3 linked regions of the Homo sapiens genome follow. The protein of the gene in region 2 interacts with the protein of the main gene of each other region in a pairwise test. Each region holds a gene or a part of one and is shown on either strand. Other genes may lie near its edges. The genes, in order: HIBADH, MAL and CLDN20.

What was found.
Region 1: the proteins of MAL (region 2) and HIBADH interact in binary tests that used the Homo sapiens proteins (3 or more experiments, as listed by UniProt).
Region 3: the proteins of MAL (region 2) and CLDN20 interact in binary tests that used the Homo sapiens proteins (3 or more experiments, as listed by UniProt).

The regions. Positions count from the first base shown.
Region 1 is NC_000007.14:27,649,253-27,652,907, forward strand, and holds part of HIBADH (3-hydroxyisobutyrate dehydrogenase, mitochondrial isoform 1 precursor), read right to left. Parts: intron 3,399-3,655; exon of another isoform or gene 3,348-3,398; intron 382-3,347; coding exon 221-381; intron 1-220.
Region 2 is NC_000002.12:95,042,602-95,046,256, forward strand, and holds part of MAL (myelin and lymphocyte protein), read left to right. Parts: intron 1-3,283; exon of another isoform or gene 3,284-3,546; intron 3,547-3,655. UniProt on the Homo sapiens protein: May be involved in vesicular trafficking from the Golgi apparatus to the cell membrane. Plays a role in the maintenance of the myelin sheath, and in axon-glia and glia-glia interactions.
Region 3 is NC_000006.12:155,270,486-155,274,140, reverse strand, and holds part of CLDN20 (claudin-20 precursor), read right to left. Parts: intron 1-3,655. UniProt on the Homo sapiens protein: Plays a major role in tight junction-specific obliteration of the intercellular space, through calcium-independent cell-adhesion activity.

The sequences.
Region 1 (3,655 bases), on a different chromosome or scaffold from region 2:
CCAAGTCACCTGCCAAAGAATAGATACCCCTGAATGTCTAACGAGAACTCTCCTTTACTGCAAATCTGGATGTTGGATGAATGATTACATATATATAAAATTAACACTGAATTAGGTTTACAACTCCATTGGGTATACTTCTAAGAAGCTGTCACTTATTTGAATGTATATTCATTTTTCATTCTCAAAATCTAAAACAAATCTAAAGAAAAGGTCTTACCTGTTCACCTGCATCTTGAAACTCTTTGCAGGCATCAGGGAACACATCATAAATAATAAGTGGATAGCCATGTTTCATGAGATTTTTTGCCATTGGATTCCCCATGTTGCCCAGTCCAATGAATCCAACTGGAGTCTTTGAAGCCACTGACCTAGAACACACTGATTTCAATACATTATTTTCAATAGGGGCAAATAACATTTTTTATTGTAAACATTCATTTAATATTAGCAAGTCAATTGTTAGATTTTTTTTTTTTAATAAAAGAAACTTTCAGGAACCAGGTGCAGTGGTGCACACCTATAATCCCAGCTACTTGGGAGGCTGAGGTAGGAGGACTGCTCGAGCCCAGGAGTTTTAGAACAGCCTAGGCAACACAGTGAGATCCCATCTCAAAAATAAATAATAATATTTATTAAAAAAAAAACCCACTAACTTTTAAAAGGCAAATTTTAAACTAATGGACCTAACCACATTTAAAGTTATCAACAATGTGCAGGCAGACTAACTTCTAATTATTTAGTTTTCTGGGGCACATTCACAAAATTTTAAGCATTTTTCCTGTTTTGTACCTGTATAACATTCTTTTACCATTTTTAACAATAAACTAAATAATGTTATCATTTATAAAACACCTAATATGTAATTTACTTATAATGTGAAGTATTCCATATTATCTCCCTTAATAATGTGTATAAAAGACAGAAAGTATTCAAAAAGACGTAAGTCTTGGACCAGCTTCAAGAATGGAAAAACTTTTTACCTTCCCACTCCCACAGTTACAGAAACCATCCCCTCCAATGATACAAAAAAAAAAAAACTCAAAAAGATGTTAAACCCAGGAGAATGGAATCACCAGTTTATAAAGGTGGTCCTGGGGTAGAAAGGGGAGATACCTCCATAGGCTTTAAATGGCAAGTGTAACAGTATCAGGACCTTGGTCTAACAACTCTGAACTTTCAGAAAAGAGAGACTTCCTTATTATATTTTTATTTATTTATTTATTTATTTATTTATTTATTTATTTATTTATTTTTTGAGACGGAGTCTCACTCTGTCACCCAGATTGGAGGGCAGTAATGCAATCTCGGCTCACTGAAGCCTCTGCCTATTGGGTTCAAGCAATTCTCATGCCTTAGCCTCCGGTGTAGCTGGGATCACAGACACGCACCACCATGCCTGGCTAATTTTTGTCCTTTTAATAGAGACAGAGTTTCACCATGTTGACCAGGCTGCCATTAAAAAAAAAAAAAAAAAAGCCTTAAAAACTACACAGGTTTTATTTATTCTTTTATTTTTCATATAAGACTTTTTGAAATTACTCCGTGGGCATATGAATCAAAGTAATGCGTTACAGAGTGGGGAGGCTTTACAGTACTATGGAAATAGCGTTAGATGCAATTTTTCACTTTCTAGATTTAGAACTCCACTCAATAAATATTCACTGCATGAAGTACTATGACAGAGCTCAGAGACAGACACAAGCAACGTATGGTCCCTGTCCTTTAAAAGCTCACAGTCTAGTGAGGGAAAAGAGAGAAGTAACTCTCCTTGCTCTTCCATTTCCCAGCATTCTTTTTCTTTTTTCTTTCAAGAACTCCAGCTTTAAAATTTGTAGTGCAACAACTAATCACAGTCCCTCTTTTAAGTTTCAGGTCCCCTCAACTGAACTTAATCTGCTCTTCCCTGAACTGAATCTGAATGGAATGAGATTTGTTAAAAGCAAATTATTTGAAGCCCTAATGCTTAAGAACTAGAGGTCTTCTTGGGTTGGAAGCATATTTAATTCCTTTAACTTAATGACTGACTCTAACACTTCCATTAAATGTGGGTGTCATTTCTGTGCAACATCATTTAACAGGCGCTAAGTTTAATACACTGGTATAATAGTACACTGGTATAATAGTACACTGGTATAGTTTGTCTTTCTGGCCTGCAAGGAATTCAATGACAGAAAAGTGACACCAAACTGAAATTTTATTTTGATATTAAACAGAATGAGTACACTTCATCAGAGAACTCTAACTAATGCTCATAAACAAACTAGCAATAATAGCCAGAAAGAAAATGTGGCATTACTGTGTTAAGGTTGAAAAGGTGTAATTTAGCAATCTAAAAACTTCAGCAACTAGGAAGATTATAATTTAAAGACAGTTAATTTAACAGGCAATTCACTCTAGGTCAAACAATTCATAAGTATGGTCACGTAGAACCACAATTCATTCACAAATTCAACAAACACTAAGCAACTATCACATGTACCAAAAGAGATGCCAAAGAAGGTAAGAGACACAGTCCTTGCCTTCAACAAGCTTAAAACCAAGAAGAAATAAACCATGTACATAAACACTAACATAAGACAGTTAAAGATAAAAACACAATGCTGATGAAAAATGAGAATTCATGGTGTGGGAACTTGAGGAATGTGGCATCTGACCTGGATATTATACAAGGGGTAGGATTTCAAATGGATAGGAGGGTAAGGAGGAGGGGAACTCCATACAGAAAAAGGAACATGAATATATACAAGGAACTAGAAGAGCCATGAAGAAATGACAGTAATAGTTAATATTTACTGCAATTTTACTACATGCCAGACACTATGCTAAGCACTTTATAAACAGACCTATTACCATATGCTATATATGAAGCCCATCTTACAGCTGAGAACCCTGATGCTGAGTTGAAGTAAAATACCTAATACTTTACTAAGTTGTAATGCCAAGATTCAAATCCAGACATTCTAATTCTAGAGTCTCCACTTGTAAACATTGTATGATACTGCCCTCTATTCTTCCTAAAGAATGCACAAAGAAACAAAACAGCAAGAGATTAAGATTAAAAAAAAAATGCAACCATAATGTGGAAGGATAGAAGGATGCTAAACAACTTGTATTTTGTAGGCAAGAGGTAGTTATTGAAACAGTGGGCAAGAGAAATGACAGATGAGACTTACACTTTAGGAACAGAAATGAGGCAGCAGTGTACAATGAATGAACTTGAAGAAAAGAGCCTGGAGGCAAGAAGACCAATATAAAAGTGACAGTAATCCTCTAGATGCCTTAGTTTGAGCTACTATAACAAATATACCATAATGGCTTAAATAACGAACACTTATTTCTCACAGTTCTGGAGGCCAGGAAGTCCAACATGAAGGTGACAGCAGATCCAGTGTCTGGTAGGTCCACTTCCTCGTTTGCTGATGGCCATTTTCTCACTGTATCCTCACATGGTAGAGAGCAGAAAGAGAAGCCACTCTCATGTCTCTCTGTACAACAGCACTAATCCTATTCACAGGAGCTCTATCCGCATGATCTAATTGCCTCCCAAAGGGCCTAGCTCCTAATATCATTATATTGAGGGTTAGGAATTTTGGCCAGGCGCAGCGGCTCACGCCTGTAATCCCAGCACTTTGGGAGGCCAAAGTGGGTGGAT
Region 2 (3,655 bases):
TTTTGATGGACAGTAACAGGGTGCAGCTGTGGGGTCGGAGGAAGTCTGGCCAGTTGGCAGAAACAAAGGGGACACAGCACCGTGCCTCCAGGGTGCCAATAATGTTTTCAAAATAATTGCCTCTTTGCACTGCCACCTGGAGGCTGGGAGCCACCTGGAGTCTCCTTGATGAAAGGAAATGCTTGAACCCTCACATACTCCCTTGCTCTGGACAAATATTTGGCCAGCGGGGTCCTGAGGCCAGGCTGGAACAGATTGCTCTGTGCCCAGGAGTGCCTTAACTCCCTGGTGTGGGTGCCCTTCTTACTCTGTTTGCTCTCTGTACATTTAGTAGGTGGAGCAGGGCAGGAACCAGATTTGACTCATGGTTTACAACAAATCTCAGCTTTGCACACAGCGGGGCTGGAGGCTCACCCTCCCTGGAGCCCCACCTTCTGCTACTCCTTGACCCAAGCCCGGCTGCCCAGCCTTCAGCCTCCAAAGCCCTCACAGCTGCTTCAGCATCCTCTGAGCTTGGCATGTGCCCTTTCTGCCCTCTGGAGAGCCCCTCCCAGTCCTTTGGCCTGGTTAACCAGTTAGGTCCACCTCTCTCTCCAAGGCTCGACTGACCCTATGCACCTGTCCAGGCTGCTCTGCCCACTCGGGGCTGGTTGTCCACCTGCATGTTAAGTGGCTGCTTATGCATCTGTTTCCACTGAGCTGTCAGCCTCCTGCATGAACGACAACTTATTCCCAGGTATTGGTAGTGCTGGGCTCAGTGCCAGAAGCTTCATACTCACATCTGTAGTTTTAGCCAGTTCACACCAGCCCCCAGTGTGGGGAGACTGCTGTGAGTTGCCATTTGCAGAGAGGAAGCTGGGGCCAAGAGGCAGAATCACTTGCTGCAGCGTCCCACAGTGACTTCGGAGGACAGCTCCTCTGAGAACGGGAGTCCCCTGCCAAGGGGAGGGAGCTGGCAGGGCGCCTCTGCATTAGAATTCTCCCAGAGAAGACCGCGGCAAAGGCCTGTGCTCCAAAGGCAAGGGGCATGACTCAGCTGAGGCAACAGCTGTTTCTGTTCCACAGACACCTAGCCGGGAATGAAATCTCTCCTGACTCGGCTGTGCCTTTCCCGTATCCTCCTCTTCTTCTCAGGATTGCTCTTCACCCTCCTCCGCCCTGTCCCCCAGATGGCCCCTGTGACCCTGGGCTCTGCAGTCCTCCCTGGGCATCTCCTGGGCAGTGCTGAGCGGAAGGTCGACCGCCCCACTGCCCATCCCCTGGGAGCAAACCCCTGGCTTTCATGATGTCATCTGTGCTGAGACATCTGTGACTACCTTCACCTTCATATGTTTCTGGGACAGGCAAGGACTGGTGTAAGAGCGTCCCTAGGAACGTGGTTCCTCAGAGGCTTCTGGGTTGGAGGCTCCAGGGACATGAGACACACTCACCCAGGGCCCCCTGAATGGTGGGGTCCAAAAGGGGCACTGTGCAGCTGCAACGGTAGAGATATTCTGTGTAAGTCCCCTTGAGAGAGAATTTCTCACCTGAAGACATTATACTAAATGAAAGAAGTGAGCCACAAAAGTCCATATGTTGAATGATTCCATTCATATGAAAGTTCAAAATATGGAAGTTTGTAGAGATAGAAAGTAGATTAGTGGTTGCTTGGAATGGGGGCAGGGAAGCCACAGCTCATGGGATTTCTTTCCAAGGTGATGACAATGTTCCAAGATTGACTGTGGTGATGGACGCACGTATCTGCGAATATTCTGAAAACCAGGGAATCATACCCTTTCAATGGGGGAACTGCATGGGCTGTGAATTATAGCTCATAAAGCTGTTTAAGAAAAGAAAAAGATAATGTCTCCCCACCATCTCACTATGAAACATACTGCTATAAATATACCATGCAAAGGAAAAAAGTCGGCCTCATTTTTTAAAGGACTCACTTGCAAGGTGATGCCCCCAGAGGCTGGGTGGGGTCCTGAGATCTGTCAGGAGCTGGGGTTAAACCCATAGTGGGCTTTGTTCTATGGACAACTGTGGACAAGGTTCCCACTATAGACTGCAGGAACCTGCGAGCCAGTGTGGGGAGCATGGAATTTCCCAGGGAGCTGGAAAATAGTCTTCATCAGGTTGGTAAAAGCACACACTGGAACAGGGCAGAGTCTGGCCTGACCTCAAGGCCCTCCGCGCAGCTGCCGGAAGCTCAGAGCCCAGGCTGTGGCTGCAGCCAGCAAGGTGCACACAGGAGGCTGTGACCAGCTCTCCACACACTGACTTCCCCTCACTTTTCCTGCCATTGATTCCTCACACCAGTCACATCTTAAGCCACGTGGGAAGAATGGAGTGGAGTGAGATGACTCTGCAGACAGGAGCTGAGGACTACCTTCTCAGATTTGCCATTTCCAGCTGCCATCTGTGCATTAATTTACCTCATATGTATTTTACAGTTAATTTTTCCCAAAATAATGACATTGCAACCATAAGCATAGAAACAATGTCACTATCCGGTTTACCTTTGCCTATCCACGCTATTAGAGAACTCCAGACACCTGGCTCCACCCTGAGCCCTTCTTGCCTTCATCAGAAAAACCAAAGAGAGTAAAGGAGGAGGAAAATCGTTTCCTCACTGTGAAATTCAGTGTTCCTCGATAGCATGTGTATAGGTCACCCGTAAGCGCCTCTGGCCCACGGGGTCCCACTGGGATTCCATAACGGAGTCTCTTCCCAACCATGTGCAACCCAAGCTGCTCCTTTGGGGTTTGGTTCATAAGTGGCTCTAGTTCAGCCACACCCAGGTACCAGGAGACCAAGGCCCGTTAGCTGACTTGGACACCGATGCATGGCTGGATGGGTCTTCTCCTGGTCCCCACCAGTGAGGCAGCTGTGAGCAAGGCAGACCTCAAGCCCACCATCACCTGGTCAGGGAAAGCGCCATGTTATCCCTAACCCAATATACCTGTGTTTGTGCTGAGTGCTACAGAGAAGACGTGCAGGACTCCCTGAGACTGTGTGAACGAGGAAGCAACTTAAATTGGTCCTCCTGGGAGGGTCACGTAGCCACCAGGCAAAAGGCACTTAGGAGAGGGGTTCCCAGGCCAGGGCCTCCCTCTTCCCACTGGATGTGCCCGCTGGATCCTCCTCCTATTTCTCCATGCCACCCTCGCATGCCTCCTGAATCCAAGCCCTGCCTGTACCAATGTGCTCCTGTCCCTCCGTCAGTGCCCGTTATGGAAAAGGCCACATAATCTGTTGAATCTTAAACTCAACTGTGGATGAAATCTACACACACATCTTATTCCATGGTGGTCTGGGCATTTTTATTTAATTGATTTTGCTCCCATTTTTGTAAGATGCACAGTGCATCCCACCGGCCCTGCCACGTGCCTTCAGGCAACCTAAGATCCATCAGCAGAGGACGCTTTCTGGTCAGAGATGCCCACATCTGATTCCTTAGGGACAACTTGGTTTTAATAAATCCAAAGTCTTCATTGCACTGATTTTTCTACCCAAATGCAATTCTCTCCTGATTGCTTCTCAGTCAAGCAGCTCAGAGAACACCTGTGAAGACAGCGGTATCTCTCACCCAGCAGGTGGGCAGCAGGTGCAGGGAGGTGGGGGGGTCAAGGTGCTATGTGAATTCAAACCACAGGGGACATAGGCCTGGGAG
Region 3 (3,655 bases), on a different chromosome or scaffold from region 2:
CTTGGGCCAGTTCTTAGCTTTATACCTCTCTGTGCCTCAGTATCCTCTTCTGGAAAATGGGGAGGATTGAAATACTTCGTTCATAGGGTTAAATAAGTTAATACATTTTAAGGGCTTAGACCAATATTTAAGCCACAGAAAGTCCTCAGTAATTTAAAATTGACATCATTATTAGTATTTTTATTTCTTATGTATTGTGACAATTGATGTTTAAAATTATTTGGATCTTTTCCCTTTTTCTCTTCCTTCCTTGGGCTGATTTATTTTCATAGAATCTTGGAGCTGAAAGAAACCTCAGACAGACAATCTCAAGCATCCTTGTTTTTTCAGATCAGAATGTTCAGATAGGATATCACCCCATGTCATACAGTCTTCAGCAGCCAACCTGCAGCGTCCAGATCTCTCTCCACCCCTCCTACCTCACAGGGTCATCCCGCATCCTTTCCCCTTTTACCACAACACTTCCTGCTGAAATTCTTTCTCCCCCTGTGTGTTTCCCTTGGGAACCAGGGAAAACACTGTATCTGGAGGCAAAAAGCACCATTAACTGTCTACTTCACCCACTCCCCTCCCCACCAAGGAAAAAAAGGACTGTAGAGGATGTTAATAGGCCACATGGCTCAGCTTCAGATGACTCGGCAAGGAGATTGATGCCTGGCTTTGGTTAAATATTTGAAATAGTACTAATCCATTGCCTATATTTAAAGTATAAACTTTGCATAGCTACAAACATTGATTCTCTAAGACATTAGATCCTAGACTATCTGGATTGTGCTGTTCTGTTTTTGTTCATAATCTGAAAATGTAAATCTTACCATTTTAGAAAAGGATTTCCCTAGGATTTTAAGTTCTTAAGAGTCAGACTTATCTGTAGACATCAGTGTGCCTAGGATTCACCTGCTATCATACAGTTTCTTTTCTGTTTTCCAAACTTAGACCAAAATAGAACAAAAGTTAAAGTTTCTAGAAAAAAAATCAAGCACATGTTTACAGTTTTGTAATAGCTGCTTTCAAGTTTAGGTTTTAGCATTTCGGACTCCAGCCAGCTTGCTAAATTACTGCCTCTGGACCATTTTCAGCTTAGGGATTCTTCAAGTGTGGGGTTGCTGGAACATTTTCTAACAGCATCTGCTTGCTCACTTTTCTCTCTCCCTCTCTCTTTCTTTCTACTTTGACTGAATAACCTTTGTTGTCAATCTATGTTCAGCTTACCAATTATAATCCTTTTCTTCCCATTAACTGATATATTTTATAACTTTCAGTATATTTCAGACATGAAGACAGTTTGTTCATCATGATTAACAAGTACTGGCAGTGATCAATTACAGACAGCCAAAATCAGTGTAAACAATATGACGTGTCATTTAATTAGCATAGTGCTTGCTTACTGTTGAATATTGGATTCAAATGCTTTTTTTTCTGCATAGAGAACTTATGTAGAAAGAATTTGTTCTCCAAATGAAGGTCACTTTCTGCTCATACAAATATACTGGCATTTTAGCTGCATTGCGCTTTACCCTCCAGCCACGAGTATAATACCGTTTGTGGCCTGTTCTCTCAAAATTTCTATCTCGTAGAGAATAAAGGCACACTTTGTTCCAGCAGCTGTGGTGGTGGTGGTAGAGAAATACTGTGAAGGCAAGCAGAAGCAGAGGGGAGGGGTCGCATGTAAACACTTACATGGTCTACAGTGAAAACTCTCTCATGGTCCCAAAACACAGTGCACACAGAACAGAACCCAGGCACCTTCAGTTTATGAACTACTCGCCAACAGAAAGTCTGTTGTAGATTTCACTAAAATGTAAAGTCAGCTTTCCAGACAAGGTTTATTTATATCAAAAATAATATTTAAAAGCAGATTTACTGCTTATAATTCGAACTAAATAATACCGAAAGACCTATTCTTAGATCTCTAAGCATTAAGACAGGTTTTATTTACCATACCTTTTGTCAGTAGCCTTCACTGTCTTAACTCCTTCGGTCAGTTGTCTTCAAATTAACCTCAGTTAGTTATGGTGAAGAAAAACCATATACGTGAGGCTTATTTCAGAAATTCTGGATATGTTTATAAAGCTCCAATAAGTTAACTTGAAAAAAGCAAATAAAGGACAACGTAGAAATCTGAGAGGTAAAAACTGCTGATGGTGTTAGAAGATAAATACCAGGTTCTCCATCTCATTTTTTGAGATGTGGGAGAATTAAGAAAGGAGAGGCGGGGAAGGGAGGGAATTGTTGTTACAACAGGATTTGTTGAAACCTGAAAGCTAAAAATGCTTTTGTGTCACTGTGTACAGAGGAGGAATTATTTGGGTGCTCACAAAAAGGCCTTCTTTTCTTTTAATATAATGTTTTAGTCACATAGTTATAACTTATTTTTGAAATTTTCTCTATGTTGAAAGATATAATGTATTATTTTATGTCCTCAGTTCAAGAATGTGGTCTGAAATATTTTTAACAATGTCGTGCCTTGCAAATGAGAGTTGAGACTCCCTTTTTTCCCTGGTATTCTTGACTTGTCTGGAACCTGAATTCATAAAATTGTTAATTTTCAAAATAATCATTCAGAAGAAAGTTTTTTAACATATGTATTTTTTTCAATAAAAGAAAAAAGAAAACCCAGCAACAACTTTTGACTAGAATCTGATCACTAAACCTACAGGTATTTTTGTGTGTGTGGTGCCCTGAGTTTTCTTGTTATTGCTTCCACTTAGATTTGTGGAGTATAACTATAGAGATTCAGGAAATGTTATGAATAAATTACCCAAAATGATGTGATGAGACACATCAGATAAGACTGTGATCAGATACTGAGGTTGTAGCCCATGAATAATGGTACAGATGGATTTCACTGCCATCCTTTTGGGTTCTCATTTTTTTCTTCCTCAGTAAGTTTTATTCTACAAGCTATAAATTCATAGCCATTATACAGAAAGAAGATAATTTTATTATTGGATTTTTAAATTTAACAACTGTTAATAACCATGTTAGACTTTAATCATTTCTTTAAAAGTAGTAAATAAACAAACACATGTTTCGGTTATCTGGATTTTTTGTTTTGGTTTGTTTTAATCCTAAGTTTTGCATTGAGCAAGATACTCTTTTTCCTCTTTTCTAAGTCTAACATCTGTGGGTTTGCTTTTCAGCCATAGTATTGATTACATGTTAAGTCTTAGCTCTCTAAGTCGTTGTAAGCTTTATGTGTACTGGCTTTGTTCTTTGATTTTATTTCATGGGAAATACAAACAATTCAGTGCATAAATAAATACTGGAAGAAGTTGAGTTGAATTGCAGACACTAATAGTCGCAGCAGTGTCATTAGTGCTGCATCCGAAGACACCTCACCAGGGCCCTCCAGCGTCCTGGCTTGTTTCGCTGGTCGCCATGGTTGTTAGTGCAGACATAAGCTTTGTGAGGCTGACTGATGGCAGATGGAGGGACCCGGCTGCTCCCCACTCTAACCTCTAGCATAAGGAAGCTGGCTGGAGGATAAATGGGTTAAGCATGCTTTAATGTACATTTAATGTACATTTCTATTCTCAAAACATGTTGATTATTTTTTTGCCTTGATGAAAACAATAATCCTATAAAATATTAATTGCCTGCTTTAGAAGGAAAACTTCTGAACTGGAAGCAACTTTCGTTAGCTATAGACCTT